2 separate regions of the Homo sapiens genome follow, and region 1 is linked to region 2. The links come from fine-mapping of genetic effects on gene expression. Tissue or cell type: esophagus mucosa. Region 2 holds a variant in brackets; the other region holds the start of a gene. All regions are shown on one strand. Distances are from middle to middle.

Region 1 (16,154 bases), 46 kb after region 2:
AATAAAACACTAGAAGACAATCTAGGCAATACCATTCTGGACATAGGAACTGGCAAAGATTTCATGATGATGCCAAAAGCAATTGCAATAAAAGCAAAAATTGATAAATGAGATCTAATTAAACTTAAGAGCTTCTGCACAGCAAAAGAAGCTATGAACAGAGTGAACAGGTAACCTACAGAATGGGAGAAAATTTTTGCAAACTACGAATCTGACAAAGGTCTAATATCCAGCATCTATAAGGAACTTGAGCCAATTTACAAGAAAAAAAAAAAAACATTAAGAAGTGGGCAAACGACATGAAGAGGCAGCTTTCAAAAGAAGACATACATGTGGCCAACAATCGTATAAAAAAAAAAGCTCAACACCACTGATCATTAGAGAAACACAAATCAAAACCACAATGAGATATCATCTCACACAAGTCTGAATAGCTATTATTAAAAAGTCAAAAAATAACAGATGCTGGCAAGGTTGTGGAGAAAAAGGAATGCTTATACACTGTTGATGGGAATGTAAATTAGTTCAACCACTGTGAAAAACAGTTTGGTGATTCCTCAAAGTCCTAAAGACAGAAATACCATCTGACCCAGCAAGCTCATTACTGGGTATATACCCAAAGGAACAGATATCATTTTATAATAAAGACACATGCATGCATATGTTCATTGCAGCACTATTCACAATAGCAAAGACATGGAATAAACCTAAATGCCCATCAACTATGGACTAGATAAAGAAAACGCGGTACATATACCTCATGGAATACTATGTAGCCAAAAAAAGAACAAGATCAAGAACAGCTCCCAATGGAGCTGGCAGCCATTACACTTAGTAAACTAACACAGAAATAGAAAACCAAATACCACATGTTTTCACTTATAAGTGGGAGCTAAATGATGAGAACACATAGACTCATGGAGGGGACCAACACACACTGGGGCCTACTGGAAGGTAGAGCATGGAGGGTGGGAGGAGGGAGATGATCAGGAAAAATAACGAATGGTTACTAGGCTTAATAACTGGGTGATAAAATAATTTATGCAACAAACTCCCATGGCACAAGTTTACCTACATAACAAACCTACACATGTACCCCTGAACTTAAAATAAAAGTATAAAAAAGAAAATATATATATAATTAAAAAAAAGAAAGAAAATGTAAGTCACCAGTCCAGGAAGCCTATAAGGAAAATTATTTTTAAATTCTGTAATAAAATGTAATTTTGAATTTAAAAACAGACGATTCAGGAAAACATCACCTTACCAAATGGACTAAGTAAGGCACCAGGGACCAATCCCAGAGAGACAGAAATATGTAATCATTCAAACAAAGAATTCAAAATAGCTGTTTTGAGGACACTCAAAGGAATTCAAGATAACACATAAAAGGAACTCAGAATTCTATCAGATAAATTTTTTAAGGAAATTGAAATAATTAAAAAGAAGCAGAAATTCTGGAGTTGAAAAATACATTGACCTACAGAAGAATGCATCAGCATCTCTTAATAACAGAATTGATCAAACAGAAGGAAGAATCAGTGATCTTGAAAGCAGGCTATTTGAAAATATACAGTCAAAGGAGACAAAAGAAAAAAGAATGAAGCATGCTACAAGATGTAGAAAATAGCCTCAAAAGGGCAATAGAAAATAGCCTCAAAAGGGCAAATCTAGGAGTTACTGGCCTTAAAGAGAAGATTGAGAAACAGATAGGTGTAGAAAGTTTATGCAAAGGGAGAACTTCCCAAAGCTAGAGTAAGATACCAATATTCAAGTACAAGGTACAAGAAGATAATAGAACACCCAGCAGATTTAAGCCAAAGAAGACTACCTCAGGCATTTGATAATCAAACTCCCAAATATCAAGTATAAAGTAAGAATCCTAAAGTGGCAAAAGAAAAGAAAAAATAACAAACAATAAAATTCCAATACGTCTAGTAGCAGACTTTTCACTGGAAACCTTACAGGCCAAGAGACAGTGGCATGACATATTTAATGTGCTGAAGGGAAAAAAACTTTTACCCTAGAATAATATATCTGGCAAAAAAAATATGCTTCAAGGATGAAGGAGAAATAAAGACCTTCCCAAACAAAAACTGAGAGATTTCATCAACACCAAACCTGTCTTACGAGAAATACTAAAGGGAGTTGTTCTATCTGAAAGAAAATGATGTTAATGAGCAAGAAGAAATCATCTGAAGGTACAAAACTCAATGGTAGTAGGAAGCACACAGAAAAACACAGAATATTATAACACTGTAATTGTGGTGTGTAAACTACTCTTACCTTAAGTAGAAAGGCCAAACGATAAACCAATCAAAAGCAACTACAACTTTCAAGACATAGTACCACAGGACATAAAGACAAACAACAAACAGATAAAAAGCAGAAGACAAAGTTAGAATGTAGAGTTTTTATTAGTTTTCTGTTTGTGTTTGTTTGTTTATGCAATCACTGTTGTCATCTATTTAAAATAATGAGTTTTAAGATAGCATTTGCAAGCCTCATAGTAATTTCAAATCTAAAAACATACAATGAATAAGCAAAAAATGAAAAGCAAGAAATTGAAATATACCATCAGTGAAGATTACCTTCACTAAAAGGAAGAAGAAAAAGAAGAAACAGAAGATCACAAAACAACCAGAAAACAAAAAATAAAATACCAAAAGTACTCACTTATTAGTAATAACATTAAATGTAAATGAACTAAACTGTCCAATCTAAAGACATAGAGTGGTTGAATTAATTAAAAAAACAAGACCCAATGATCTGTTACCTACAAGAAACACACTTCTCCTATAAAGATAAACATGGAATAAAAACACAGGAATGGAAAATATATTCGTGTCAATGAAAACCAAAAAAGAGCAGGAATAGCTATACTTGTATCAGACAAAATAGATTTAGATTCAGATTAGAGCTAAAGAGATAGACCCCAATGCAATAATAGCTAGAGACTTCAGGCGAGACGCGATGGCTCACGCCTGTAATCCCAGCATTTTTGGAGGCCGAGACGGGCAGATCACGAGGTCAGGAGATCGAGACCGTCCTGGCTAACACGGTGAAACCCTGTCTCTATTAAAAACACAAAAAAATTAGCCAGGCGTGGTGGTGGGCACCTGTAGTCCCAGTTACTCAGGAGGCTGAGGCAGGAGAATGGCGTGAACCCAGGAGGTGGAGCTTGCAGTGGGCCGAGCGGAGATCGCGCCACTGCACTCCAGCCTGGGTGACAGAGCGAGACTCCATCTCAAAAAAAAAAAAAAAATAGCTAGAGACTTCAACATCTCACTTTCAGCATTGGACAGATCTCCCAGACAGAAAATCAACAAGGAAACTTTGGACTCAGTCTGTACTATAGAACAAATGAACCTAATAGGTATTTACAGAACATTTTATCCAATGGATGCAGAATACACATTTTTCTCCTCATCACATGGATCATTCTCAAGCGTAGACCATATTTTAGGTCACAGAACCAGTCTTAAAACACTCAAAAAGTTGAAATAATATAACGTATCTTCTCTGAACAAAATGGAATAAAACTATAAATCAATAACGAGAGCAATTTTAGAAATTATACAAACACATGGAAATTAAACAATATGCTCCTGAATGACCAATGGGTCAATGAAGAAATTGATGAGGAAATTGAAACATTTCTTGACACAAATGATAATGCAAACATACCAAAACCCATGGGATACAGCAAAAGCAGTACAAAGAGGGAAATTTATAGCTATAAGTGTCTACATCAAAACAGAAGAAAAACTTCAAATAAATAACCTAATGATGCATTTTAAAGAACTAGAAAACCAAGAGCAGCCCAAACCCAAAATTAGTAGAAAATAATAAACAATAATGATCAGAGCAGAAATAAATGAAGTTAAAATTAAGAAAACAATACAAAAGATGAATGAAATGAAAGTTGCTTTGTTGAAAAGATAAACAAAATAGACAAATCTTTAGCCAGACTAAGAAAAAAGAGAGAAGGCCCAAATAAATAAAATCACAGATGAAAAAGAAAACATTACAACTGATATTGCAGGAATTCAAAGGATTATTGGCAGCTACTATGAGCAACTATACACCAATAAATTGGAAAATCTAGAGGAAATGGATAAATTCCCAGAAACATACAACCTACCAAGATTGAACCTTGAAGAAATCCAAAACCTGTACAGATCAATAACAAGTAATGAGATCAAGGCTGTAATAAAAAGTCTCCCAGTAAATAAAAGCCTGGGACCCAGTGAATTCAATGCTGAATTCTACCAAACATTTAAAGAAGAACTAATACCAATCCTATTCAAACTATGTTTAAAAATAGACAAAGAGGGGATACTTCCAAACTCATTCTATGAGGCCAATATTACCCTAATAAAAAACAAGACAAAGAAACTTAAAAAAAAAAAACTACAAGCCAATATTTCTGATGAATATTGATGGAAACATCCTCGACAAAATACTAGGAAACCAAATTCAACAATACATTAAAAATATCATTTATCATGACCAAGTGGGATTTATCCCAGGGATGCAAGGATGGTACAACACGCACAAATCAATCAATGTGATACATTATAGCAAGAAAATGAAAGACAAAAACCACGTGATCATTTCCATTAATGCTGAAAAAGCACTTGATAAAACTCAATATCCCTTGATGATAAAACCCCTCAAAAAACTGGGTATAGAAGGAAGATAACTCAACATAATAAAAAGCCATATATTACAGACTCACTCAATGGGGGAAAAGAGAAAAACATAAAGGGCATCCAAATTGGAAAGGAAGAAGTCAAATTGTCCTTGTTTGTGGATGATGTGGTCTTATATATGGAACAAACTGAAGATTCCAACAACAAAAAACTATTAGAAGTTATAAATTTATTAAAGTTGCAGGATACAAAATCAACATCCAAAAATCAGTAGCACTTCTATATGCCAACAGAGAAGAATCTGAAAAAGAAATCAAGAAAGTAATTCCATTTACAAGAGCTACAAATAAAATTAAATTCTTAGGAATTAATTTAACTGAAGAAGTAAAAAATCTCTTCAATGAAAACTATAAAACATTGATGAAAGAAACTGAAGAGGACACAAAAAATGGAAAGATATTCCATGTTCATAGATTGGAAGAATCAATATTGTTAAAATGTCCATACTATCCAAAGCAATCTTCAGATTCTATGCAAATTATATCAAAATATCAATGACATTCTTCACAGAAAGAGAAAAAACAATCCTAAAATTTATATGGAAACACAAAAGACCCAGAATAACAAAATCTATCCTGAGCAAAAAGAGCAAAACTCAAGGAATCATATTATCTGACATCAAATTATACTACAGAGCTACAGTAACCAAAACAGCATGGTACTGGCATGAAAACAGACACACAGACCAAAGGAAAAAAATCGAGAACCCAGAAACAAATCCATATACCTACAGTGAGCTCATTTTTTACCAAGGTGCCAAGAACATACATTAGAGAAAGGACAGTCTCTTCAATAAATGGTGCTGGGAAACCTGGATATTCATATGCAGGAGACTGAAACTAGACCACTCTCTCTCATCATGTACAAAAATAAAATCAAAATAGATTATAGACTTCAATGTAAAGCCTCAAACTGTGAAACTACTACAGGAAAACACTGGGGAAACTCTCCAGGACATTGGTCTAGGCAAAAATTTCTTAAGTAATACACCACCAGCACAGGCAACCAAAGCAAAAATAGACAAATTGGATCTCATCAAGTTACAAAGCTTCCCTCCAGCAAAGGAAAAGATCAACAACAGAAAAAGAGAACCCACAGAATGGGAGAAAATATTTGCAAACTTCCCATCTGATAAGGGAATAATAACCAGAAAATATAAGGAGCCCACACAACTCTATAGGAAAAAAATCTAATAATCAGATTAAAATATGGGCAAAAGAGTTGAATAAACATTTCTCAGAGGAATACATACAAATGAAAAAAAGGCATATGAAAAGGTCCTCAACATTATTAGTTATCAGAAAAATGTAAATCAAAACTACAATGAGATATCATCTCACCCCTGTTAAAATGGCTTATATCTAAAAGACAAGTAATAAAAAATGCTGGAGAGAAGGTAGAGAAAAGGGAAACTTGTACCCTGTTTGTGGGAATGTAAATTAGTACAGCCACTATGGAGAACAGTTTGGACCTTCCTCAAAAAGCTAAAAATAGAGCTGCCATACAACCCAGCAACCTCTCTGCTGGGTGTACACCCAAAAGAAAGAAAACCAGTATATTGAAGAGATATCTTCACTCCCATGTTTGTTGCAGCACTGTTCACAATAGCCAAGATTGGGAAGCAATGCAAGTGTCCATCAACAAATGAACAGGTAAACAAAATGTGGTACATATACATAACAGAGTACTACTCAGCCATAAAAAAGAATGAGATTGGCTGGGTGCGGTGGCTCATGCCTGTAATCCCAGCACTTTGGGAGGCTGAGGCGGGTGGATCAACTGAGGTCAGGAGTTCAAGACCAGCCTGACCAACATGGAGAAACCCCGCTCTACTAAAAATACAAAATTAGCCAGGCATGGTAGCGCATGACTGTAATCCCAGCTACTTGGGAGGCTGAGGCAGGAGAATCACTTGAACCCAGGAGGCGGAGGTTGCAGTGAGTCGAGATTGCACTGTTGCACTCCAGCCTGGGCAACAAGAGCAAAACTCCGTGTCAAAAAAAAATGAGATCCTGTCATTCGCAACAACATAGAGGGGACTAGAGGTCATTAAGTGAAATAAGCCAGGCACAGAAAGACAAACTTTACAATGTTCTCACTTATTTATGAAAGCTAAAAATTAAGACAATTGAAGTTATGGAGATAGAGTAAAATGATGGTTACCAGAGGCTGGGAAAGATATTAGGGGGTGGGAGGGAGGTGGGGATGGTAAATGAGCACAAAAAAAATAGTTAGACTGAATAAGATCTAGTATTTCTGAATAAGATCTAGTATTCGATAGCACAACAGGGTGACTATAGTCAATAATTGTACAGTTAGAAATAACTAAAACAGTATAATTGTATTGTTACAATTAAGAGTATAATTGTATTGTTACAATTATAACAAATAGGAATAGGACTTCCTAACTACATGGAATTCAGTTTTTGAACTTTCTAAATATGTTCAATAATGAAGAGAGACAGAATTTTCAACAGTTCATGTAAAATTCCTGATGTGACCATTTCAATTCTCTGATATGGGCCATGTAAGAGGTCACTGGACAAGCAGAGAATAATGAGAATATAAGATGCTTCTTTAAGACTGGACCTGTGCAATAATGTATCGAAGATATATTCCTTAGCCTTACATGCTATCAGGAATTCTCCATTATTAAGACGAACTTAACTTCCTTTTCAGTCAAATTCTGTAGGAAAAAAAACTCTTCGACTCATTTCACAAACCCATCCAGAACATTTTTGTCGCTGATGATAGTAATCTTTTCTTTTTCATCCCCTGATCCCATTAGGACTTACCAGATTATATATCCCTTTGTCCTGTAGAGAAATAGCAGGATTGGCCGGGCACGGTGGCTCACGTCTGTAATCCCAGCACTTTGGGAGGCTGAGGCCGGTGGATCACGAGGTCAGGAGTTCAAGATCAGCCAGGCCAAGATGGTGAAACCCTGTCTCTACTGAAAATACAAAAATTAGCCAGGAATGGTGGCAGGCACCTGTAATCCCAGCTACTTGGGAGGCTGAGGCAGAGAACTGCTTGAACCCGGGAGGCAGAGGTTGCAGTGAGCTGAGACCATGCCGCTGCACTCCAGCCTGGGCAACTCCGTCTCAAAAAAAAAAAAAAGAGAGAAAAATAGCACAATTGAGTAGGGCCCCTTCCAATCTTCAGACCTCCTGCGGTCAAGTAGAAATTGTCAGACAAACTCCAGGACCAGATCAATGTGATTCTGTTCACTGTTCTCTTCTCACCAATGGGTCCCTGACTCAATTTCCAATGCAGTATCCTGGAAAAATAAGCACAGGAGGGCCCTGTTCATTTCCAGAAGAGTAAGTCTGGAACTAGTTCTGGATCACAGAACCTTAGCTCTCAAGTCCTCAGCAAAAAGTCTGTGGAACAAAATCAAGTGGCATCTAATTATGTATCTCCTGAATCAGAATTAAAAAGGCTTCCTCAGAGTCACACCCATTTCCTTTCACATACAGAACTAGCTGAGCAAGTCTTTGATTCATGGATTCCCAGCAACTCTAGCTGGAACAACTTCTTTGGCTCGTATTCCTCTGGTATATGTGCTGAATTTAGAATTCAATCACTGGACACCAGGAAAGGCAACTTCAGCAGGAGGGACAGGCACTAGCGCCAGGGCCCTGGGAAGCACCTCTGAACTGCCTACATGTGGGGCTCTGTACAACAGGAATTACTGTGCTTAATGCCTCCTCTGTGTTAAGCACCATGCATGTATTATCTAAATCCAATCTTACAACAATCTTTATTTTAAATATAAATAAAAAGGGGATTTGTGAAAGGAATTAAAAACTTGCCTGAAACCCATGTCCTTTCCAATTACTCCCTATGGGTTTCAAGATGAAGTAAAGTGCCTATAGGAGCAGAAACTGTATAAACAGGATTGCTACACCTTTAAGTTTTGAGTAACTTCCTGGAACTGACACTCAATACAGCAACATTCCTTTCAGCTGACAGTATTTCACAATGCATTTACTTTACTTTTGTTTTCTTTTAATATTCATAAAAGTCTTATGCCTTCCCTTTCCACTGTAAGAACCTGATATGCACTTCACTTGGGACAAAGCTCAGACTGTGCTTTCTGCATATCACCACCAGACACGATGTTCCAAATTAACTTTCACGTTCTATAATTTCCATTGTAAAAACTATAGACTTGAAATATAAAATTATAATTACATACATAACCCTTCTGTGTACCAACATTCTATAGGCCCCAACCTGCTATTGGGTATTCCAGAAGTCGGAGAAAAGTAACTTAGCTGTTTGGGAACAGTTATGTGAGTCACACCAACCTAAATAACAGATAAAGAAAAGCTCTCTAAAAGACAGTGATATTTATTCAAGAATGAGCATTGCAATGGGAATATGCGTGCCATCACAAACTATGTGTGTATTCAGACAGGTAAGGGAAGAAAAAAGTTTTAAAAAGAAAAATAAGAAGGATTACACAATTGTTTTGAATCAATTCTTTGCTTACAAGGATCAGTAACAAAGGTGGCACCAGTCCAAGGTTAGACAGGCAGTTGGTGGACAGATGTCCTGGCAGAAGTATTTTTTGTTTAAGGTTGCAATAGCCTTTGTGCAAAGCTGTAGTTTTTAGTTTTGTTTTGTCTTTAATTTTTATGGGTACATAGATGTATATATTTATTTATGGGATATATGGGATATTTTAATACAGGCATACAATGTATAATAATCACACCAGGGTAAATGAGGTATCTATCATCTCAGATATTTATTTTTTGTGTTAAAATATTATACTCTTTTAGTTATTTTTAAATGTACAATTAAATTATTATTGACTATAGTCAATAATATATTGTGCTATCAGACATTAGATCTTATTCCTTCTAAATCTTTTTGTACTCATTAACCATTCCCCCTACCCCTGCACACCCACCCCACTACCCTTCCTAGCGTCTGGTAACCATCATTCTATTCTCTATCTCCGTAAGTTCAGTTGTTTTAATTTTTAGCTTTCACAAATAAGAGAGAACATGTAAAGTTTGTCTTTCTGTGCTTGGCTTATTTCACTTAACATAATGACCTCCAGTTCCATCTATGTTGTTGCAAATGACAGGATCTCATTCTTTTTATGGCTGAATAGTACTCCATTATGTATACGTACCATTTTTTTTATTCATTCATTTGTTGATGGACACTTGGATTGCTTCTAAATCTTGGCTATTGTGAGTGGAACTGCAATAAACATGGGAGTGCAGATATCTCTTCAATATATTGATTTCCTATTTTGGAGGTATATACTTAACAGTGGGTTTGCTGGATCATACGATAGTTCTATTTTCAGTTTTTCTGAGGAAGGCCCAAACTGTTCTCCATAGTAGTTGTACTAATTTACATTCCCACAAACAGTGTCCAAGGGTCCCCTTTTCTCCACATCCTCTCCAGCCTGTTATTGCCTGTCTTTTGGGTAAAATCCATTTTAACAGATGTGAGATGATATCTCATTGTAGTTTTGAATGGTGTTTCTCTGATGATCAATAATGTCGAGCACATTTTCATATGCGTGTTTGCCATTTGTATGTCGTCTTTCAAGAAATGTCTATTTAGAACTTTTGCCCATATTTTAATTAGTTTATTAGATTTTTTCCTGTATAATTGTTTGAGCTCCTTGTGTGTTCTGCTTACAAATCCTTTGTCAGATGCTTAGTTTGCAAATATTTTCTCCCATTCTTTGGGTTTTCTTCTTCTGTTGTTGATTGTTCTTTGCTGGAAGGAAGCTTTTTACTTTGATATGGTTGCATTTGTCCATTTTTGTTTTGGCTGCCTGTGCTTGTGGGGTATTACTCAAGAAATGTTTGCCCATTCCAATGTCCTGGAGAGTTTCCCCAATGTTTTATTGTAGTAGTTTCATAATTTGAGTCCTTAGATTCAATTATTTAATCTATTTTAATTTAGTTCTTGTATATAGTGAGAGATAAGGGTCTAGTTTCAGTCTTCTACGTGTGGATATCTAGTTTTTGCAACACCATTTATTGAAGAGACTGTCTTTTCCCCAATGTATAGTCTTGGCACCTTTGTAAAAAATGAGTTCACTGTAGGTGTATGGATTTGTTTCTGGGTTCTCTATTCTTTTTTCATTGGTCTATGTGTCTGTTTTTATGACTATACCATGCTCTTTTGGTTACTATAGCTCTGTAGTATAATTTGAAGTCAAGTAATGTGATTCCTTGAGTTGTGTTCTTTTTGTTCAGGATAGTTTTGGTTATTCTGGGCCTTTTGTGTTTCCATATAAATTTTAGGATTGATTTTTCTCTTTCTGTGAAGGATGTCATTGGTAGTTTGATAGAGATTGTATAGAATCTGAAGATTGCTTTGGGTAGTATAGACATTTTAACAATATTGATTCTTCCAATCTATGAACATGGAATATCTTTCCATTTTTTGTGTCCTCTTCAGTTTCTTTCATCAATGTTTTATAGTTTTCATTGAAGAGATTTTTCACTTCTTCAGTTAAATTAATTCCTAAGAATTTAATTTCATTTGTAGCTCTTGTAAATGGGATTACTTTCTTGATTTCTTTTTCAGATTCTTCTCTGTTGGCATATAGAAGTGCTACTGATTTTTGGATGTTGATTTTTTATCTGGCAACTTTAATTTATTTATCACTTCTAATAGTGTTTTATGTTGGAATCTTTAGGTTTTTCCATATATAAGACCACATCATCCACAAACAAGGATAATTTGACTTTTCCTTTCCAATTTGGTTGCCCTTTACTTTTTTCTCTTGTCTAATTGCTCTAGCTAGGAGTTCCAGTAGTATGTTGAATAACAGTGGTAAAAGTGTACATCCTTCTTGTGTTCTTGATCTTAGAGAAAAGGCTTTCAGTTTTTCCCCATTCAGTATAATACTAGGTATGAGTCTGTAGTATATGGCTTTTATTGTGTTGAAGTACATTTCTTCTACATCCAGTTTTTTAGAATTTTTATCATGAAGGGATATTGAACTTATTTATTCAAATGGTTTTTCAATACCAATTGAAATGATTATGTGGTTTTTGTCCTTTATTCTATTGATATGATGTATCACATTGATTGATTTGTGTACGTTGAACCATCCTTACATCCCTAGGATAAATCCCACTTGGTCTTGATGAATGATCTTTTTAAGGTGTTATTGAATTCAGTTTGCTCATGTTTTGTTGATGTTTCCATCAATATTCATCAAAGCTGTTGGCTTGTAGTTTTTTTTTTTTTTTTTGATGAATCTTTGTCTGATTTTGGTATCAGGGTATTACTGGCCTCATAGAATAGGTTTCGACATATTCCCACCTCCTCTATTTTTTGAAATAGTTTGAAAGAATTAATATTAATTTGAAAAAAAAATCAGGAGGGAAGTTGATGGGTCCTGGGCTTTTGTTGCTGAGAGACTTTTTATTATAGCTTTGATCACATTACTTATTATTGGCCTACTCAAGTTTTGGGTTTCTTCCTGGTTCAATCTTGCTAGGTTGTATGTGTCTAGGAATGTATCAATTGCCTCTAGGTTTTCCAACTTATTGGCATATAGTTGCTCATAGTAGCCTCTAATGATCCTTTGAATTTCTGTGGTATCAGCTGTAATGTCTCATTTTTTATCTCCGATTTCATTTATTTGGGTCTTCTCTCTCTTTTTTTAGTTAGTCTGGGTAAAAATGGGTCAATTTTGGCAGGTGTGGTGGCTCACACCTGTAGTCCCAGCACTTTGGGAGGCCAAGACTGGCAGATCACTTGAGGTCAGGAGTTTGAGACCAGCCTGGCCAACATGGTGAAACCCCCTCTCCACTAAAAATACAAAAATTAGCCAGGTGTGGTAGCATGTACCTGTAATCCCAGCTACTCAGGAGGCTGAGGTAGGACAATTGCTTGAACCTAGGAGGCAGAGGTTGCAGTGAGCCAAGATCACACCACTGCACTTCAGCCTGGGCAACAGAGCAAGACTCCATCTCAAAAAATATTAATTATAATAATAGGAAATGGGTCAATTTTATCTTCTTAAAAAAAGACTTTTCATTTTTTAATCTTTTGTGTTGTTTTCTTCTTTTCAATATAATTTCTTTCCAATTTGATCTTTAATATTTCATTTCTTCTACTAATTTTGGGTTGGGTTTACTCTAGCTTTTCTAGTTCTTTAAGATGTATCATTAGGTAGTTTATCTAAAGTTTCACTTCTTTTTTGATGTAGGCCCTTATAGCTATACATTTTTCCCTTATTACTTCTTTTACCATATCCTATAGATTTGGGTATATTGTGTTTCCATTATCATTCGTTTCAAAAAAATTTTCAATTTCCTTCTTAATCTCTTTATTGACTCACTAGTCATTCAGGAGCACATTGTTTAATTTCCATGGGTTTGTATAGTTTCCAAAATTCTTCTTGTTATGGATTTCTAGTTCTATTCCATTGTGGTCAGAGAAGATACTTCATATTATTTCAACTTCTTTTAATGGTTTACAACTTGTTTTGTGACCTAACATATGGTCTTTTCTTGAGAATGAGCCATTTGATGAGGAGAAAAATGTGTATTCTGCAGCCACTGAATGATAGGTATTCTGTAAATACCTATTAGGTTCATTTGTTCTATATTGCAGATGAAGTCCAATGTTTCTTTCTTGGGTTTCTGTCTAGGAAATCTGTCCAATACTAAAAGTCGTGGGTTGAAGTCTCCAGCTGTTATTGTACTAGGGTCTAACTCTCTCTTTGCTGCTAATATTTCCTTTACATATCAGGGTACTCCCATGTTGAGTGCATATATATTTGGAATTGTTTTATCTCCCTGGTGAACTGACCCCTTTGTCATTGTATGCTGGCCTTATTTGTCTCTTGATATAGTATGTGTCTTGAAATCTATTTTGTCTGATATAGGATAGCTATTCCTGCTCTTTTTTGGTTTCCATTGACATGGTATATCTTTTTCCATCCTTTATTTTCCCTCTAGGTGTGTCTTTATAGGTGAATTGTGTTTCCTGAAGGCAACAGATCATTGGTGCTTGGTTTTTTGTTTTTTGGGGGTTTTTTGTTTGTTTTTTGTTGTTGTTGTTGTTGTTGTTGTTGTTGTTGTTGTTGTTGTTGTTTTGAGACAGAGTCTCACTCTGTTGCCCAGGCTGGAGTGCAGTGGTGTGATCTCAGCTCACTGCAACCTCCACCTCCTGGGTTCAAGTGATTTTCCTACCTCAGCCTCCCAAGTAGCTGGGATTACAGGCTTGCACCACCACACCCGGCTAATTTTTGTATTTGTAGTAGAGACAGGGTTTCACCATGTTGGCCAGGCTAGCCTCAAACTCCTGACCTCAAGTGATCCACCCACCTCAGCCTCCCAAAGTGCTTGGATTACAGGTGTAAGCCACCATGCCCAGCCTTTTTGTTGCTGTTGTTTGGTTTTTTAATCCATTCAGCTAATCTACATCTTCTCACTGAGGAGTTTAGACCATTTACACTCAGTGTTATTAGTGATAAATAAAGACTTACTCATGCCATTTTGTTATTTGTTTTCTGCTTGTTTTGTGAAATTCTGTTCCTTCTTTCCTTCCTTCCTCTCTTATTTTTAGTGAAGGTGATTTTCTCTGGTAGTATGTTTTAGTTTCTTGCTTTTTTTTTTTTTTTTTTGAATATCCATTGTATGTTTTTAGATTTGAAGTTACCCTGAGGCTTCCAAATACTATCTAACAACCCATTATTTTAAACTGATGACAACACTGATTGCATAAACAAGCAAAAATAAAACTAATAAAAACTATACACTTTAACTTTGTCTCCCCACTTTTTAACTTTTTTGTGTCTGTTTATGTCCTATTGTACTCTATCTTGAAAAGTTGTAGTAATTTTTAATCAGTTCATCTTTTGTTTTCCTACTTAAGATATGAATAGTTTACACACCACAATTACAGTTATAATATTCTGTGTTTTTATGTGTACTTAATATTACCATTGAGTTTTGTACCTTCAGATAATTTCTTCTTGCTCATTAACATCTTTTTCTTTTAGATTGAAGAACTCTCTTTAATTTTTCTTGTAGGACAGGTCTGGTGTTGATGAAATCCCTCAGCTTTTGTTTGTCTGGGAAAGTTTTCATTTCTCCTTCATCCTTGAAGGATATTTTTGCTGGATATACTATTCTAGGGTGAAAGTTTTTTCCTTCAGCACTTTTAATATGTCATGTCACTCTCTACTGGCCCGTAAGGTTTCCAGTGAAAAGTCTGCTGCCAGATGTATTGGAGCGCCATTGTATGTTTTTTTGTTTTGTTTTGTTTTCTTTTCTTTTCTCTTGCTGCTTTAGCTTTGCTTTCTTTATACTTGACCTTTGGGAGTTTGATTATGAGATGACTTAAGGTACTCTTTTTTGGATTAAATCTGCTAAGTTTTATATAACTTTCTTGTACATGAATATTGTTACCCTTCCTAGATCTGGGAAGTTCTCTGATATCCCTTTGAGTTTGTTTTTTTTTTTATTTCCATAGTTTTTGGGGAACAGGTGGTGTTTGGTTACATGAATAAATTCTTTAGTGGTGGTTTCTGAAATTTAGTAGTGATTTCTGAAATTTTGGTGCACCCAAAAGCAACTGCTGTTGCTTTAAAGTTTGTTTTGTCTAATATAAGAATAGCTACTTCTGCTTGCTTTTGCTGTTCATTTACATTGAATATCTTTTTTGACCACTTTACCTTAAGTTTACGTGAGTCCTTATGTGTTGAGTCTCTTGACACCTGAGCAGTGTACACTGTACCCAATGTGTACTCTTTGGCTCCACACCCCCTCCCACCCTTCTATATTAATTTGTTTAGAATTATTTAATTTTCATGCATTTGCATGGTTTTGAGGGTTCCTTTTGGAGCGGATTTCCAATTTTATTCCCCTGTGGTCTGAGCAAGTACTCAAGTACTTGATATAATTTTGATTTTTCTTAAATGTATTGAGACTTGTTTTGTGGCCTATCACAGGGTCTATCTTGGAGAATGTTCCATGTGTTGATGAATAGAATGTATATTCTGCAGTGTTGGCTAAAATGTTCTGTAAATATCTGTAAAGTCCATTTGTTCTAGGGTATAGTTTAAGTCCATTGTTTCTTTGTTGACTTTCTGTCTTGATGACCTGTCTAGTGCTGTCAGTGGAGTATTGAAGTCCCCCACTATTATTGTATTGCTGTCTATCTCATTTCTTAGGTCTAGTGGTAATTGTTTTATATATTTGGAAGCTCCAGTGTTAGATGCATATATATTTAAGACTGTGATAACTTCCTGTTGGACTAGTTCTTTTATCATTATATAATGTCCCTCTTTGTCTTTTTTAACTGCTATTGCTTTAAAGTTTGTTTTGTCTGATATAAGAATAGCTACTCCTGCTTGCTTTTGCTGTTCATTTGCATGGAATATCTTTTTCCACCCCTTTACCTTGAGTTTATGTGAGTCCTTATGTGTTAGGT
Region 2 (16,154 bases):
GCCATGACTTGAATGTGTCCCCTCAAATTCAAGTGTTGCCAATACAATAGCATCAAGAGGTGGGGCCTTTAAGAGGTCACTGGGCCACAAGGGGTTCTCTCTCAGGACTGGGATTAAGGCCCTTATAAAAGAGCCTTCAGGGAGCATCCTGCTAGCTTGCTTTCTGTATGTGAGAACACAGCAAGAAAGCCCTAGTCGAACAAGTGCCAGATCATTGATCTTAGATTTCCCATCCTCCAGAACTGTGAGAAATATATTTCTGTTCTTTATAAATTAAAAAAAAAAAAAACTTGCTGAAAGAAGTGCAGAGGGCTATAGAAGGAAAGCCAAAAGACCCTACCCAGCATTCTCTACAGTTACACCCCCTAGGGAGGGGGGAAAAGGGAAAGAAAAAATAATACTATTATAGGGAAATAAAAAGAAAAACTCCTACCCACACTAAAATAATTACAAATATTAGAAGTGCCAAGGTCTCCAGATGAGAAGGAACCAGCACAAAAAATCTGAATGTAGTGACACCACCAAATGATCACACTGGATCTACAGCAATGGTCTGTAATCAAAATGGAAACTCGGAAATGACAGATAAAGAATTCAGAGTATGGATTGCAAGGAAGCTCAATGAGCTCCAGGACAAGGTTGAAAATCAACACAAAGAAACTTCTAAAGGATTCTCTTCCAAGATGGCCGAATAGGAACAGCACCGGTCTGCAGTTCCCAGTGTGATTGATGCAGAAGACGGGTGATTTCTGCATTTCCAACTGAGGTACCTGGTTCATCTCAATAGGACTGGTTGGACAGTGGGTGCAGCCCACAGAGGGCAAGCTGAAGCAGGGTGGGTCATTGCCTCATCCAGGAAGTGCAAGGGGTCACGGGATTTCCCTTTCCTAGCCAAGGGAAGCCGTGACAGACTGTACCTGGAAAATCAGGACACTCTCTCCCAAATACTGTGCTTTTCCAATGGTCTTAGCAAACAGCACACCAGGAGATTATATCCCGCATGTGGCTCAGCAGGTCCCACACCCACGGAGCCTTGCTCACTGCTAGCGCAGCAATCTGAGGTCAACCTGCGAGGCAGCAACCTGGCAGGAGAGGGAGGTGTCCGCCATTGCTGAGGCTTGAGTAGGTAAACAAAGCAGCTGGGGAAGCTCAAAGTGGGCAGAGCCCACCACAGTTCAGCAAGGTCTGTTGCCTCTGTAGATTCCACCTCTGGGGGCAGGGCATAGCTGAACAAAAGGCAGCAGAAACTTCTGCAGACTTAAACATCCCTGTCTGACAGCTCTTAACAGAGCAGTGGTTCTCCCGGCATGGTGCATGAGCTCTGAGAATGGAAAGACTGCCTCCTCGAGTGGGTCCCTGACCCCCATGTAGCCTAACTGGGAGACACTTCCCAGTAGGGGCCAACTAACACCTCATACAGGCGGATGCCCCTCTGGGATGAAACTTCCAGAGGAAGGATCAGGCAGCAATATTTGCTGTTCTGCAGCCTCTGCTGGTGATACCCAGGCAAATAGGGTCTGGAGTGGACCTCCAGCAAACTCCAACAGACCTGCAGCTGAGGGACCTGACTATTAGAAGGAAAACTAACAAACAGAAAAGAATAGCATCAACATCAACAAAAAGCACATCCACACCAAAACCCCATCTGTAGGCTGCCAACATCAAAAACCAAAGGTAGATAAAACCACAAAGATGGAGAGAAACCAGAGCAGAAAAGTTGAAAATTCTAAAAACCAGAGCGCCTCTTCTCCTCCAAAGGACGACAGCTGGTGAGGACCAGCAATGAAACAAAGCTGGATGGAGAATGACTTTGATGACCTGACAGAAGTAGACTTCACAAGGTCAGTAATAACAAACTTCTCTGAGCTAAAGGAGGATGTTCAAACCCATCACAAGGAAGCTAAAAACCTTGAAAAAAGATTAGATGAATGGCTAACTAGAATAAACAGTGTAGAGAACACCTTAAATGACCTGATGGAGCTGAAAACCATGGCATGAGAACTACGTGATGCATGCACAATCTTCAACAGCCGATTCAATCAAGAGGAAGAAAGTGTATCAGTGATTGAAGATCAAATTAATGAGATAAAGTGAGAAGAGAAGTTTAGAGAAAAAAAGTAAAAAGAAATGAACAAAGCCTCCAAGAAATATGGGACTATGTGAAAAGACCAAATCTACATTTGATTGGTGTACCTGAAAGTGATGGGGAGAATGGAACCAAGTTGGAAAACACTCTTCAGGATATTATCCAGGAGAACTTCCCCAATCTAGCAAGGCAGGCCAACACTGAAATTCGGGAAATACAGAGAACACCACAAAGATACTCCTCGAGAAGAGCAACCCCAAGACACATAATTGTCAGATTCACCAAGATTGAAATGAAGGAAAAAAATGTTAAGGGCAGCCAGAGAGAAAGGTCAGGTTACCCACAAAAGGAAGTCCAACAGACTAACAGCAGATCTCTCAGCAGAAACTCCACAAGCCAGATGAGAGTGGGGGCCAATATCCAACATTCCTAAAGAAAAGAATTTTCAACCCAGAATTTCATATCCAGCCAAACTAAGCTTCATAAGTGAAGAAGAAATAAAACCCTTTACAGACAAGCAAATGCTGAGAGATTTTGTCATCACCAGGCCTGCCCTAAAAGAGCACTAAACATGGAAAGGAACAACTGGTACCAGACACTGCAAAAACAGCCAAATTGTAAAGACCATTGATGCTAGGAAGAAACTGCATCAACTAACAAGCAAAATAACCAGCTAACATCATAATGACAGGATCAAATTCACACATAAAAATATTAACCTTAAATGTAAATGGGCTAAATGTTCCAATTAAAAGACACAGACTGGCAAATTGGATAAAGAGTCAAGACCCATCAGTGTGCTGTATTCAGGACACCCATCTCACATGCAGAGACAGGCTCAAATAGAGGGATGGAGGAAGATCTACCAAGCAAATGGAAAGCAAAAAAAAGCAGGGGTTGCAATCCTAGTCTCTGATAAAACAGACTTTAAACCAACAAAGATCAGAAGAGACAAAGAAGGCCATTACATAACAGTAAAGGGATCAATTCAACAAGAAGAGCTAACTATCCTAAATATATATGCACCCAATACAGGAGCACCCAGATTCATAAAGCAAGTCCTGAGTGACCTACAAAGAGACTTAGATTCCCACACAATAATAATGGGAGACTTTAACACCCCACTGTTAATATTAGACAGATCAACGAGACATAAGATTAACAAGGATATCCAGGACTTGAACTCAGCTCTGCACCAAGTGGACCTAATAGACATCTACAGAACTCTCCACCCCAAATCAACAGAATAGACATTCTTCTCAGCACCACATCGCACTTATTCCAAAATTGACCACATAGTTGGAAGTAAAGCACTCCTCAGCAAATGTAAAAGAACAGAAATCACAACAAACTGTCTTTCAGACCACAGTGCAATCAAATTAGAACTCAGGATTAAGAAACTCACTTAAAACCACACAACTACATGGAAACTGAACAACCTGCTCCTGAATGACTACTGGGTAAACAACAAAATGAAGGCAGAAATAAAGATGTTCTTTGAAACCAATGAGAAAAAAAACACAATGTACCAGAATCTCTGGGACACATTTAAAGCAGTGTGTACAGGGAAATTTATAGCACTAAATGCCCACAAGAGAAAGCAGGCAAGATCTAAAATTGACACCCTAACATCACAATTAAAAGAACTAGAGAAGCAAGGCCAAACAAATTCAAAAGCTAGCAGAAGGTAAGAAATAACTAAGATCAGAGCAGAACTAAAGGAGATAGAGACACAAAAAACCCTCAAAAAATCAATGAATCCAGGAACTTGTTTTTTGAAAAGGTCAACAAAACTGATAGACCGCTAGCAAGACTAATAAAGTAGAAAAGAGAGAAGAATCAAATAGACACAATAAAAAATGATAAAGGGGATATCACCAACAATCCCACAGGAATACAAACTACCATCAGAGAATACTATAAACACCTCTACTCAAATAAACTAGAAAATCTAGAAGAAATGGATAAATTCCTGGACACACACATGCTCCGGAAGAAATTGAATTTTTGAATAGATCAATAACAGGCTCTGAAATTGAGGCAATAATTAATAGCCTACCAACCAAAAAAAGTCCAGGACCAGATGGATTCACAGCCGAATTCTACCAGAGGTACAGAGAGGAGCTGGTACCATTCCTTCTGAAACTATTCCAATCAATAGAAAAACAGGGAATCCTAACTCATTTTATGAGGCCAGCATCGTTCTGATACCAAAGCCTGGCACAGATGCAACAAAAAAAGAGAATTTTAGACCAATATCCCTGATGAACATCGACGTGAAAATCCTCAATAAAATACTGGCAAACCAAATCCAGCAGCACATCAAAAAGCTATCCACCACGATCAACTCAGCTTCATCCTTGGGATGCAAGGCTGGTTCAACATATGCAAATCAATAAACGTAATCCATCACATAAACGGAACCATCGACAAACAACACATGATTATCTCAATAGATGCAGAAAAGGCCTTCGACAAAATTCAACAGCCCATCATGCTAAAAACTCTCAATAAATTAGGTATTGATGGGACGTTATCTCAAAATAATAAGAGCTATTTATGACAAACCCACAGCCAATATCATACTGAATGGGCAAAAACTGGAAGCATTCCTTTTGAAAACTGGCACAAGACAGGGATGCCCTCTCTCACCACTCCTATTCAACATAGTGTTGGAAGTTCTGGCCAGGGCAATCAGGCAAGAGAAAGAAATGAAGGGTATTCAATTAAGAAAAGAGGAAGTCAAATTGTCCCTGTTTGCAGATCACATGATTGTATATTTAGAAAACCCCATCATCTTAGCCCAAAATCTCCTTAAGCTGATAAGCAACTTCAGCAAAGTCTCAGGATATCAAATCAATGTGCAAAAATCACAAGCATTCTTATACACCAATAACAGACAAACAAAGAGCCAAATCATGAATGAACTCCCATTCACAATTGCTACAAAGAGAGTAAAATACCTAGGAATCCAACTTACAAGGGATGTGAAGGACCTCTTCAAGGAGAACTACAAACCACTGCTCAATGAAATAAAAGAGGACACAAACAAATGGAAGAACATTCCATGCTCATGGGTAGGAAGAATCAATAGCGTGAAAATGGCCATACTGCCCAAGGTAATTTATAGATTCAATGCCATCCCCATCAAGCTACCAATGACTTTCTTCACAGAATTGGAAAAAACTACTTTAAAGTTCATATGGAACCAAAAAAGAGCCTGCATTGCCAAGACAATCCTAAGCCAAAAGAACAAAGCTGGAAGCATCACGCTACCTGACTTCAAACTATACTACAAGGCTACAGTAACCAAAACAGCATGGTACTGTTACCAAAACAGAGATGTAGACCAATGGAACAGAAAAGAGCCCTCAGAAACAATACCACACATCTACAACCTTCTGATCTTTGACAAACCTGACAAAAACAAGAAATGGGGAAAGAATTCTCTATTTAATAAATGGTGCTGGGAAAACTGGCTAGTCATATGTGGAAAACTGGCTAGTCATATGTAAAAACTGAAACTGGATCCCTTCCTTCCACCTTATACAAACATTAATTCAAGATGGATTAAAGACTTAAATGTAAGACCTAAAACCATAAAAACTCTAGAAGAAAACCTAGGCAACACCATTCAGGACATAGGCATGGGCAAGAACTTCATGACTAAAACACCAAAAGCAATGGCAACAAAAGCCAAAATAGACAAATAGGATCTAATTAAACCAAAGAGCTTCTGCACAGCAAAAGAAGCTACCATCAGAGTGAACAGGCAACCTACAGAATGGGAGAAAGTTTTTGCAATCTACTCGTCTGACAAAGGGCTAATATCCAGAATCTACAAACAACTTAAACAAATTTACAAGAAAAAAACAAACAACCCCATCAAAAAGTGGGCAAAGGATATGAACAGAAACTTCTCAAAAGAAGACATTTATGCAGCCAACAGACAGACATGTGAAAAAATGCTCATCATCACTGGCCATAAGAGAAATGCAAATCAAAACCACAATGAGATACCATCTCACACCAGTTAGAATGGTGATCATTAAAAAGTCAGGAAACAATAGATGCTGGAGAGGATGTGGAGAAATAGGAACACTTTTACATTGTTGGTGGGACTGTAAACTAGTTCAACCATTGTGGAAGACAGTGTGGCGATTCCTCAAGGATCTAGACCCATTTGACCCATTGATCCCATTACTGGGTATATACCCAAAGGATTATAAATCATGCTATAAAGACACATGCACACATATGTTTATTGTGGCACTATTCACAATAGCAAAGACTTGGAGCCAACCCAAATGTTCATCAATGATAGACTGGATTAAGAAAATGTGGTACATATACAACATGGAATACTATGCAGCCATAAAAAAGGTTGAGTTCATGTCCTTTGCAAGGACATGGATGAAGCTGGAAACCATCATTCTCAGCAAACTATCACAAGGACAGAAAACCAAACACCGCATGTTCTCACTCATAGGTGGGAATTGAACAATGAGAACACTTGGACACAGGGTGGGGAACATCACACACTGGGGCCTCTCGTGGGGTGGGGAGCAGGGGGAGGGATAGCATTAGGAGAAGTACCTAATGTAAATGACGAGTTAACGGGTGCAGCACACCAACATGGCTTATGTATACCTATGTAACAAACCTGCACGTTGTGCACTTGTACCCTAGAACTTAAAGTATAGTTTTTAAAAAAAAGAAAAAAAATACTTCTAAAGCAATCTAGGAAATGAAGGAAGAGATAAACATCTTAAAAAGAAATCAGTCAGAGTTTCTAGATTTGAAAAACTCACTTAAGGCATTTCAAAATAAAACTGAAACCTTTATCAATAGACTGGACCAAGAAGAAGAAAAAGTCTGAGCTAGAGCTTGAAGACCAGTTTTTGAACTAATCCAGTCAGATAAAAGTAAAGAAAAAAGAGTTTTTATTTTTTTTTATTATACTTTAAGTTCTGGGGTTTGTTACATAGGTATACATGTTTGATGTCGGTTTGCTGAAGACCTGAAGGAAGTGGGTGGCAAGCCATGTGCACGTTCAAGGCAGGTCATTCCAGGCAGAAGGAACAACAGGTGAGAATGCCCTGAGATGGGACTGTGCCTGAGGGCTTAAGGGACAGCAAGTATGCCATGTGGCTGGAGGGAGCAGCTAAGGAAAAATTATGAAGCGATGGGGACAGAAGCAAGCAAGGGCAAATCCTGTGCACTATTAGGATTCTGCTTTTTACTTTGAACTAGAGGGGAAATTATTAGAGCATTTTGAGTAGAAAAAAATGCAGAAAAGTTCATTTGTATCTCTCCTTTTGAGAAATGTCTGTTTGGATCCCTTGCCCATTTTTAAATCAGATTATTTGTTTTCTTGCTATTGAGTTGTTTGAGTTCCTTATATGGTCATGCATCATATAAAGACATTTCTGACAATGACAGGCCACACGTATGACGGTGGTCCCATAAGATTATAATGGAGCTGAAAAATCCTATCGCCTGCTGACGTTGTAGCTGTCCTAATATCCTGGCAGAACTCATTCTTCACATGTATGTGGTGATGCTGCTGTCAACAAACCTACTTCACAGCCAGCCATATAAAAGTATAGCACACACAGTTATCTATAATACAGAATACTTGCTAATAATCATAAATGACTGCATTACTGGCTTATGTGTTTACTATAGATTGTTATTTTAGAATGTATTCATTTGTCATATTTTTTTAATTTAATATAAAACAGACTCAGGCATGTCCTTCAGGATGCATTCCAGAAGAAAGCCTTGTTATCCTAGGAGATGACACCTCCATGCATGTTATTGTCCCTGAAGACCTTCCAGTGGGACCAGGTGTGGAGGTGGAAGAAAGTGATATTGCTTATCCTAACCCTACGTAGGACTGGGCTAATGTGTGTGTGTTTGTGTCTTCATTTTTAACAAAAAGTTTACAAACTAAAAAATAAAGAAAAAGAAATTTTACATAGAAAAAAGCTTATAGAATAAGGATATAAGAAAATGTTATGTACAGCTTTAGAATGTTTGGGTTTTAAGCTAAATATTATAAAAGAGTCAAAAGGTTTGCAAAAAAATAAAAAGTTTATAAAGTAAAAAGTCACAGTAAGCTAAGTTCATTGTTGAAGAAAGAAAAATATTTTTTGTAAGTTTAGTGTAGCCTAAGTGTATAGTATTTATAAAGTCTACTGTAGTGTATAGCAATCCTAGGCCCTCTCATTCACTCACCGCTCACTCACTGACTCACTCAGAGCAACTTTCAGTTCATAGTAAGCTATTTCTGCAAGTTCCGTTCATGGTAAGGGCTTTATACAGGTGTACCATTTTTAATTTTTATACTTTATTTTTACTGTACCTTTACTACTTCAGATTTGTTTAGTTACACAAATTCTTATAATTATGTTACAGCTGTCTATAGTATTCAGTACATTAACATGCTGTACAGGTTTATAGCCTTTGAGCAATAGGCCATACCATATAGCTTAGGTGTGCAGTAGACTATATTGTCTACGTTTGTGTAAGTACACTTTATGGTGTTCCCACAACTGAAACCACCTAATGATGCATTTATTAGAATGTAGCTCCATCATTAAGCAACTGATTTATACACGACTATATATTTTGGATATTAGCTCCCTAGCAGATGTATGGATTGCAAATATTTTCTCCTAATCCATAGGTTGTCTCTTCACTCTGTTAATTTCTTCCTTTACTGCACAGAAGCTTTTTAACTTAATGGAATCCATTTGTCTAATTTTGCTATTGTTGCCCGTGCTTTCGGAGTTCTACCCAATAAATCATTGCCCAGACCAGTGTCATGGAGCTTTTCCCTATGTTTTCTTCTGGTAGCCTTGCCGTTTCAAGTCTTACGTTTAAGTCTTTTATCCGTTTTGAATTGATTTTTTTTTATGGTGTGAGTATAAAGGTCCAATTTTATTCTTCTGAATGTGGATATCCAGTTTTCCCAATACCATTTATTGAAGAGATTGTTCTTTCCCCATTACGCATTCTTGGCACTTTTGTTGAAAATCAATTGACCCTAAATACTTCGGTTTATTTCTGGGCTTTTTATCCTGTTCCATTGGCCAATTTGTCTGTTGTAATGCCAGTACCATGTTGTTTTGATTATAATATCTTTATAATATATTTTTAAAATCAGAAACTGTGATGCCTCCAGTTTTGTTATTTTAACTCAAAATTGTTTGGCTATTCACAGTCTTTTCTGGTTGTATATGAATTTGGGGGTTTTTTTCTATTTCTGTGAAAATGATATTAGAATTTTGATAAGAATTGCATTGAATCTGTAGATCACTTTGGGTAGTAGGGATATTTTAACAGCATCAGTTCTTCCAGTCCATGAACATGGGATTTTTCTAATTTATTTGTGTCTTCTTTAATTGTTGTCATCAATGCTCAATCATCAGGGAAATATTCTAATCATCAGGAAAATGCAAATTAAAATTACAATGAGCTATCCCCTCACACCTGTTAGAATGGCTATTAGCAGATAAATGAAAGATAAGTGTTGGTGAGGATGTGAAAAAAAGGAAAGTCTTGTAGGCTGTTGCTGGGAATGTAAATTAATACAGCCATGTTAGAAGACAGTATGGAGGTCCCTCAAAAAACTAAAAGCAACAGAACTACCATATGATTCAACAATCCCACTTCTAGTTATATATCCACAAGAAGTGAAATCAATAAGTTAGAGAAATATCTGCACTCCCATATTCATTGATGTATTATTTACAATAGATGAAACCAATCTAAGTGTTCATAAACAGATGAGTGAATAAAGAAAATGTAATATATATATATATATATATATACATGAAATAATATTCAGCCTTAAAAAAGAAGGATATGCTTTCATTTGTGACAACACAGATGAATGTGGAGGACATAATGCTAAGTGAAATAAGCCAGGCACAAAAGGAAAAATACTGCATAATCTCACTTATATGAAAAATTTTTAAGTTAAACTCATAGAAATAGAGAGTAGGACGGAGGTTACCAGATACTAGGGCGGGACTAAGATGGGGGTTATTGAAGAGATGTTGGTCAAAGAGTACAAAGTTTCAATTAAACAGAAGGAATAAGTTTTTGAGATCTATTGTACAACAGGGTGACCATAGTTAATCGCTGAGAGTAAATTGCAAATGCCCCATCACAAAAAATGATGAGAAAGTGAAGTGATAGATATATTAATGTGCTTGATGGAATCATCCCCTATTGTATACATATATCAAAATATCACATTTTGCCCCATAAAAATATACAATTATGATTTATCAACTTAAAGTAATATTCATTTTAGAAACAAAAAATCTGTTCAATAATCTAATGATATCTCACTTAGTCAACACACAATTGCAAGCCATCCAACCAGGGTCATTCTACAGGTCTCTAGGGTTTTCTCTCTGTACAACTCTTTCTTCTCTGTACTCTGTCCTGAAAACTCTAGCTGCCTTGGCTTCCCCAGACTCTCACCTTCATCCATTCAACTC[G/A]AGGAGGTTCTTAGGCTGTTCTTGGGTTCCTCCTTCCTGTGCCATGCTGGAAACTCTCTCAAGACAGTAATCTGGGGCAATCAGAGGGCTCACCTTGGTTTTCTTCCATTTCTCAAGGCTCACTGTCCTTTTTAACTGCTGTCCAATTACTTGAAAACCATTATTTCATATATTTTGTGGGTTTTTTAGTTGTTTCCAGCAGAAGGAAAAATCCAGTCTCTGCTACTCCATGTTGGCCAGAATCAAAAGTTTACTTTCATTTTTGAAAGTTATTTTGCTGAAAATTATTGTCAATTCTAGATTGATAGTTTTCCTTTATTTTGCTTTGCTTTTTATCATGGATTTGCATTATAATCATCAATAATTGTAACCTTTCTTTCTCTGAATGCATTGGGTCTTTCTGTGCCTGCTTTTAAAGTTATCCCTTTATCATTGGTTTTCAGGAATGTGATTATTGTACATCTTGGGATAGTGTTCTTGTGTGCTTATCCTGTTCAGAGTTCACCAAGCCATTTGGGTCTGTGGAGTTTGGTTTTTATTACATTTTCATTAAATTTTCAGCACGTATTTCTTTTAAGTATTGTTTTTGCTCACTTTAGTTATGGGGCTCCAATTACATGTGTTATATCGTATCACAGGTCCTTGAAGGTCTTTGCACTTTTTGTTTTTTGTGCTTCAGTTTAGCTTCTATTACTATATCTTAAATTTCATTTATCATTCCATCTGCATTACCTATTCTACTAACAAGCCTGTACAGTGTATTTTTATTTCACACATGATATTTTTTAGCTCTAGACATTCCATTTCGTTATTTTCAATTTATTCTTTTCTTTCCTCAATAGGCTTCTGTTTTCTTTTAAACACTTGAGCATATTTATAATAAGCTGTTTTAAAGTCCTTATCAGCTAACCCACCATCGTCATCCCATCTGTCATTTCTGTATTCTGTTTATTAACTAATTGATATGTTATAGATCACATTTACCTGCCTCTTCCCATGTGTAGTAATACTGGAATTGTGAATGTTGCATTATTGAATGTGTCTGGATTTTGTTGTATTCCTTTAAGAAGTGTTAAATTTTGCTTTAGCTGGCAACTAGTTATATGCAGATCCACTTGATTCTTTTGAGGCTTGTTTTTATACTCTGTTAAAATGGGGTTTATACAGCCTCCACTCTACATCTTATCCCTTCTACTAAGACATGATCCTTCTGGGACTTCTAATGAATGTCCTGAGTGTTCAATGAGTTCTGTCCATGGTAGCTGGTTGAAACCCAAATATCTGCCAGAACCAGTCAAGCTCTAGAAATTTTGCAGGCTACAGCTAGCTGATAGCTTTTAAATCTACTATTTTGAAGCCTTATGCTATACATGCACAAGTTAAGTATTTAGACCAAGGCTCAAGGTACCCTATGTAAGTTACTGGATAATACTCCCTCTTTCCTAGAACTCTGCCCTAAAAATGTTAGTTCCTTTGGCCTCCTCAACCTCCTATCTCTGTGTTGTTAACTCAGAGAGACCACTCCACCTTATACAGGTTTCTCTTTCTGAACTGTGGTTCAGAATGTGCTCCAGGCAGAAACCTGGGGCAATCTTAGGACTCCTGTTTGTTTGCCTGTGCTTCCTATTACACAATATCTGAAAACAGTTGTTTAGTATATTTTGGTGAGGTTTTTATTTATTTGCAGAAAGAGAGCAGATTCACTAAAAGCTATTTAATCAAGCTAAAAGTGAAAGCCTACTCAATATTTTAAGAAATATATCTGAAGGTTGATGTCTGCTCTAGAGATGGAGGTTAGGTAATTATTTGAAAAATAGACAGCAAATGAAATAGTAACTGTGAACAATATTGCCCAGGAAATGTATAACAGTTAGAATTGGGTTGAGAGAGAAGTAATGCAGATCCAACATAATGGTAATTTCAACAAGAAATTGATTTTCATTCATGCAGAAGTAAAAAGTAGGCAGTGTAGGGCTGACAGCGCAGCTGTGTTTCACAAAGTCCTCAGGAACTTAGTCTTCCTCCAACTCAATGCTCTGCCCTCCCATCTGTATTCCAGCAGACAAATGAATAAAGGGACTAGTAAGAGACAAGGAAGGCACACACTAACCGTCTTTAAGAATGGTTTCTGGATATTAACTCAGAAAACTGCTGCTTACATCCCCCTTGTCATATGGCCAACCTAGCTGTATAGGAAACTAGAAAACATACTATTTCTTCTGAATGACCATGTGCTCATTTAACAATGCTATCATACTGGTAGCAGTGGAAAATGGATATTGGAAGTCAATATTTTGTGTAGACACTCGTTTCTCTGCCACAAATGTATAAAGAGAATAGATGAGACCTAGAGAGGTCCACTGTTTAAGGATGAATAAGTATAAACATAGCCTATAAGGGATAATGGGTTGCCTACCCTGACTGTCTCTCACGGATTTCTTCCCACTCCCTCTTAAATCAATTCCAATCAAGTTTTCTTACTACAAGCCCATGAAAATTGCTTTTGTCAAAGTTATCAATGACCTCAATGTAGCAAAATTCAATAGTCAGTCCTCAGTTCTCCTCTCAATCTATTAGCACCATTTGATCTATTAGCACTGTTTATATCACACTTAATGAAGTTTTTGAAACCTTTTTCATATGGCTTCCAAGTGTCACATTCTCTCCTAGTTTTCTCCTTACTTTACATTCAGTCTTCCTCATCTTCTTTGATGTTCTCTCCTCTTCACTCAACCTCTAAACAGTAGGGTTCCCTAGGGATTCGTCTCTGGAACTTCTTACTCTCTCATAGTGATTTTTCACTGCTTCCTAAGTGGTCTTATCCAGCCTCATGACTTTAATACATCTATAGTGTCTGTGCTCAAATGATTGTCTTCAACTCAGGCATCTTCCCGAATTATATGCTACAACCTTAATATCTCTACTTGGATAAATAATGACACTTGTTACTTTCTAATATACTATATAATACATTTATTTATTTTCTCTTTTTTTCCACTGAAATATAAAATCAATGGGAAGTGGAACTCCAGGTGCATAGAATAATGACTGGAACATACTAGGCCTTCAGTAAATAATGTTTAGTGAATAAAAAGAAATAGGTGATAGGGAAAACAAGAGCACTACTTCTCTGCAGCCACAAAAGGAGGAAATTTGAAGAAGGAGTGAGTAGTTCATAGTGTATAATTCACCACAGAGAATGTTTAAAATCGTAGAAGGTGAAAGAGAGGCCGGGGCAATCATCCAAGACTGCCCAGACCCCCAGGTGAGCCCTCCTGCCGTTCTACATGCCATGACCTTAAGCACTGGAAAACACAGGTTTCAATCCATAGTTTGCAGAGGAACAGAAACCATCTCATTTAATTGATAAAAGAGTTGAGAAAAACTCATTTACCCTATTGTCTTTGTGCAAATATAATTTGGACAGAGCTGCCCATGCTGAGGATGAGCATGGTGCGGGGTAGGGGAGAAGGTGGGAAGTGACAGAGATTCCATACAAGCACACTACAGGAAAAGAAGAGAGTGGAGGAATCAATTCAGGTAGAAAACATAGCTCAAGAAAAAGAACAGTTTTATGCCATGGAAGAATCTAAGAGAAATACTTTAATAAGGTAAAAACCTCAAAGCTGCAAAGATACAACAACAGAAATATGTGAAAAGAGAGACTGTAAAGCTAAGGAAAAGAACTGAAGGTCACAACACAATATCTGAACTGATGAATTGGAAAGTAATTATAGTTGAGAGTTGAGTTATAGACATAGAGGAAAGAGCTGCCGTGATCTCAGAGAATGCAGACGAAAAAAAATCAAAGATGCAAGAATTAGACAAGATAATGTATGGAGAATCCTAAAGGACAATTGGTATCTGTGAGGTAGGGAACCTAACAAATAGAATATAAAAGATATTTAATTATTATAAGAGGAAATTTTCCTGAAAGGAAAAAATGAATCTGTAGCTCCCAGGAAAAGTGACATAGAGTGACTGAGACACAGGTATTGCCTGGTTAAAGTGCTTAACTTCAAGGATGAAGAAAGAATTCTTCAGGCATACATTTAGATGTATATGCAAAGAGTTTGGGAAAATTTGACTAGCCTTGTTCTTCTTCAAAGCATCAATAAGTCAACGGGAGACCTTTGCATGGCTACAAAAGACTGAGGGCAAGAAGGTGTTACCTGCTACCTAAAAATATAATCTCTCTCCAAGGAATTCTTCAAGAACAAAGGCAAGAGGCAAAGTTTCTCAAATATGAAGGGACTTGGGGAGTGAAGCACTACTGAAAAAATTATTTGATCACAGCCATTCAAGGAATAAAACAAAATGACTGATACTTACCAATGAATAAATTTAAACAGACTGGGAACGGTGGCTCACACTTGTAATCCCAGCACTTTGGGAGGCCGAAGCAGGCAGATCACTTGAGGCCAGGAGTTCAAGACCATCCCGGCCAACATGGTGAAACCCTGTCTGTACAAAAAAAAAAAAATACAAAAATTAGCCGAGTGTGGTGGTACATGCCTGCAATCCCAGCTATTCAGGAAGATGAGGCACAAGAATCACTTGAACCTGGGAGGTGGAGGTTGCAGTGAGCCGAGATCGTGCCACTGCATTCCAGCCTGAGTGACAGAGCAAGACTCTGTCTCAAAAAAAAAAAAAAATTTGATAAAGAATTAACACTAAACAGCCATGAGGGATACGGTTACACTCCTTGGCAATTTACAAATAATAAAATAATTGGAGATAGGAGATGATAGAAGAGCAAGATGGGAGAAGAACTCATTTTCTTGCCTTTTTTAGCAGAAAAAAAGTAAACACTGTTTAAAAGTGAAGACATGATGTGAGCAATAGGGATTACTGGAATACACTAGAGTGAAGTGGTGATTAGTCACTTCATTATTGTCATGTGAAAATGTCAGCCAAGGTGATTCTGATGAGACGTCATATTTAAAATCTTGGTTGATAATTCTAGATGACAGGGAGCATCTAAAGGATTTTAGGCAGAGGAGTGACATACAAAGGTTGCATTTTTAAATTATTCCCCATGCCTGCTGTGATATGAGCCTCCAGGATTCAAGGAAAATTTGAAGAGAACAAGATGGTGGCAGGACAACCAGCTGGGAGCACGAGACCAGCTGTCCAGGTGAGAAGAGGAGGGCTATGGTGAGTCGGCTGGACTGTGTTGATTGGGGATTAAGGAGAGGAGTCAAGGTGGACTCCCAGGTTTCAGCTTAGGAGGCGAGGTGGCATTAGCAAATGACACAGAGAGCACAGAATGAGACAGATACATGACCAAGAAAATGTGACAAAATATTAATAATTGAGGAATATGCACATACACACACACACACACGTGGGGGCTAACATTTAATGTGAAACAATTTCGGACTCACAAAATGTTTCCAGGAAAAAAAAAATCTCTTCTATATCCTTCACCCATATTCCCCAATTACTAATACTTTATCACATTTACTTGGTCACTTATCTGTCTATCATCAAGTCAACTTACTTTTTGTTGCATTTCAATGTAAGTTACCGTTATCGGTACACTTCACCCA

The links.
Region 1: GSDMC starts here. The variant in region 2 is fine-mapped to the expression of GSDMC in esophagus mucosa (GTEx, PIP above 0.99).

Annotation. Positions count from the first base shown.
Region 1 is chr8:129,778,501-129,794,654 of GRCh38, forward strand. It overlaps GSDMC (gasdermin C), which reads right to left and starts at 8,124. Exons shown (of 14, transcript NM_031415.3): 1 at 7,511-8,124.
Region 2 is chr8:129,732,015-129,748,168 of GRCh38, forward strand. It overlaps a transcript of GSDMC not described here. Among named protein-coding and RNA genes, the nearest start is that of GSDMC, 47 kb to the right of the region's middle. The variant G/A (reference allele first, on the strand shown) is at 10,603.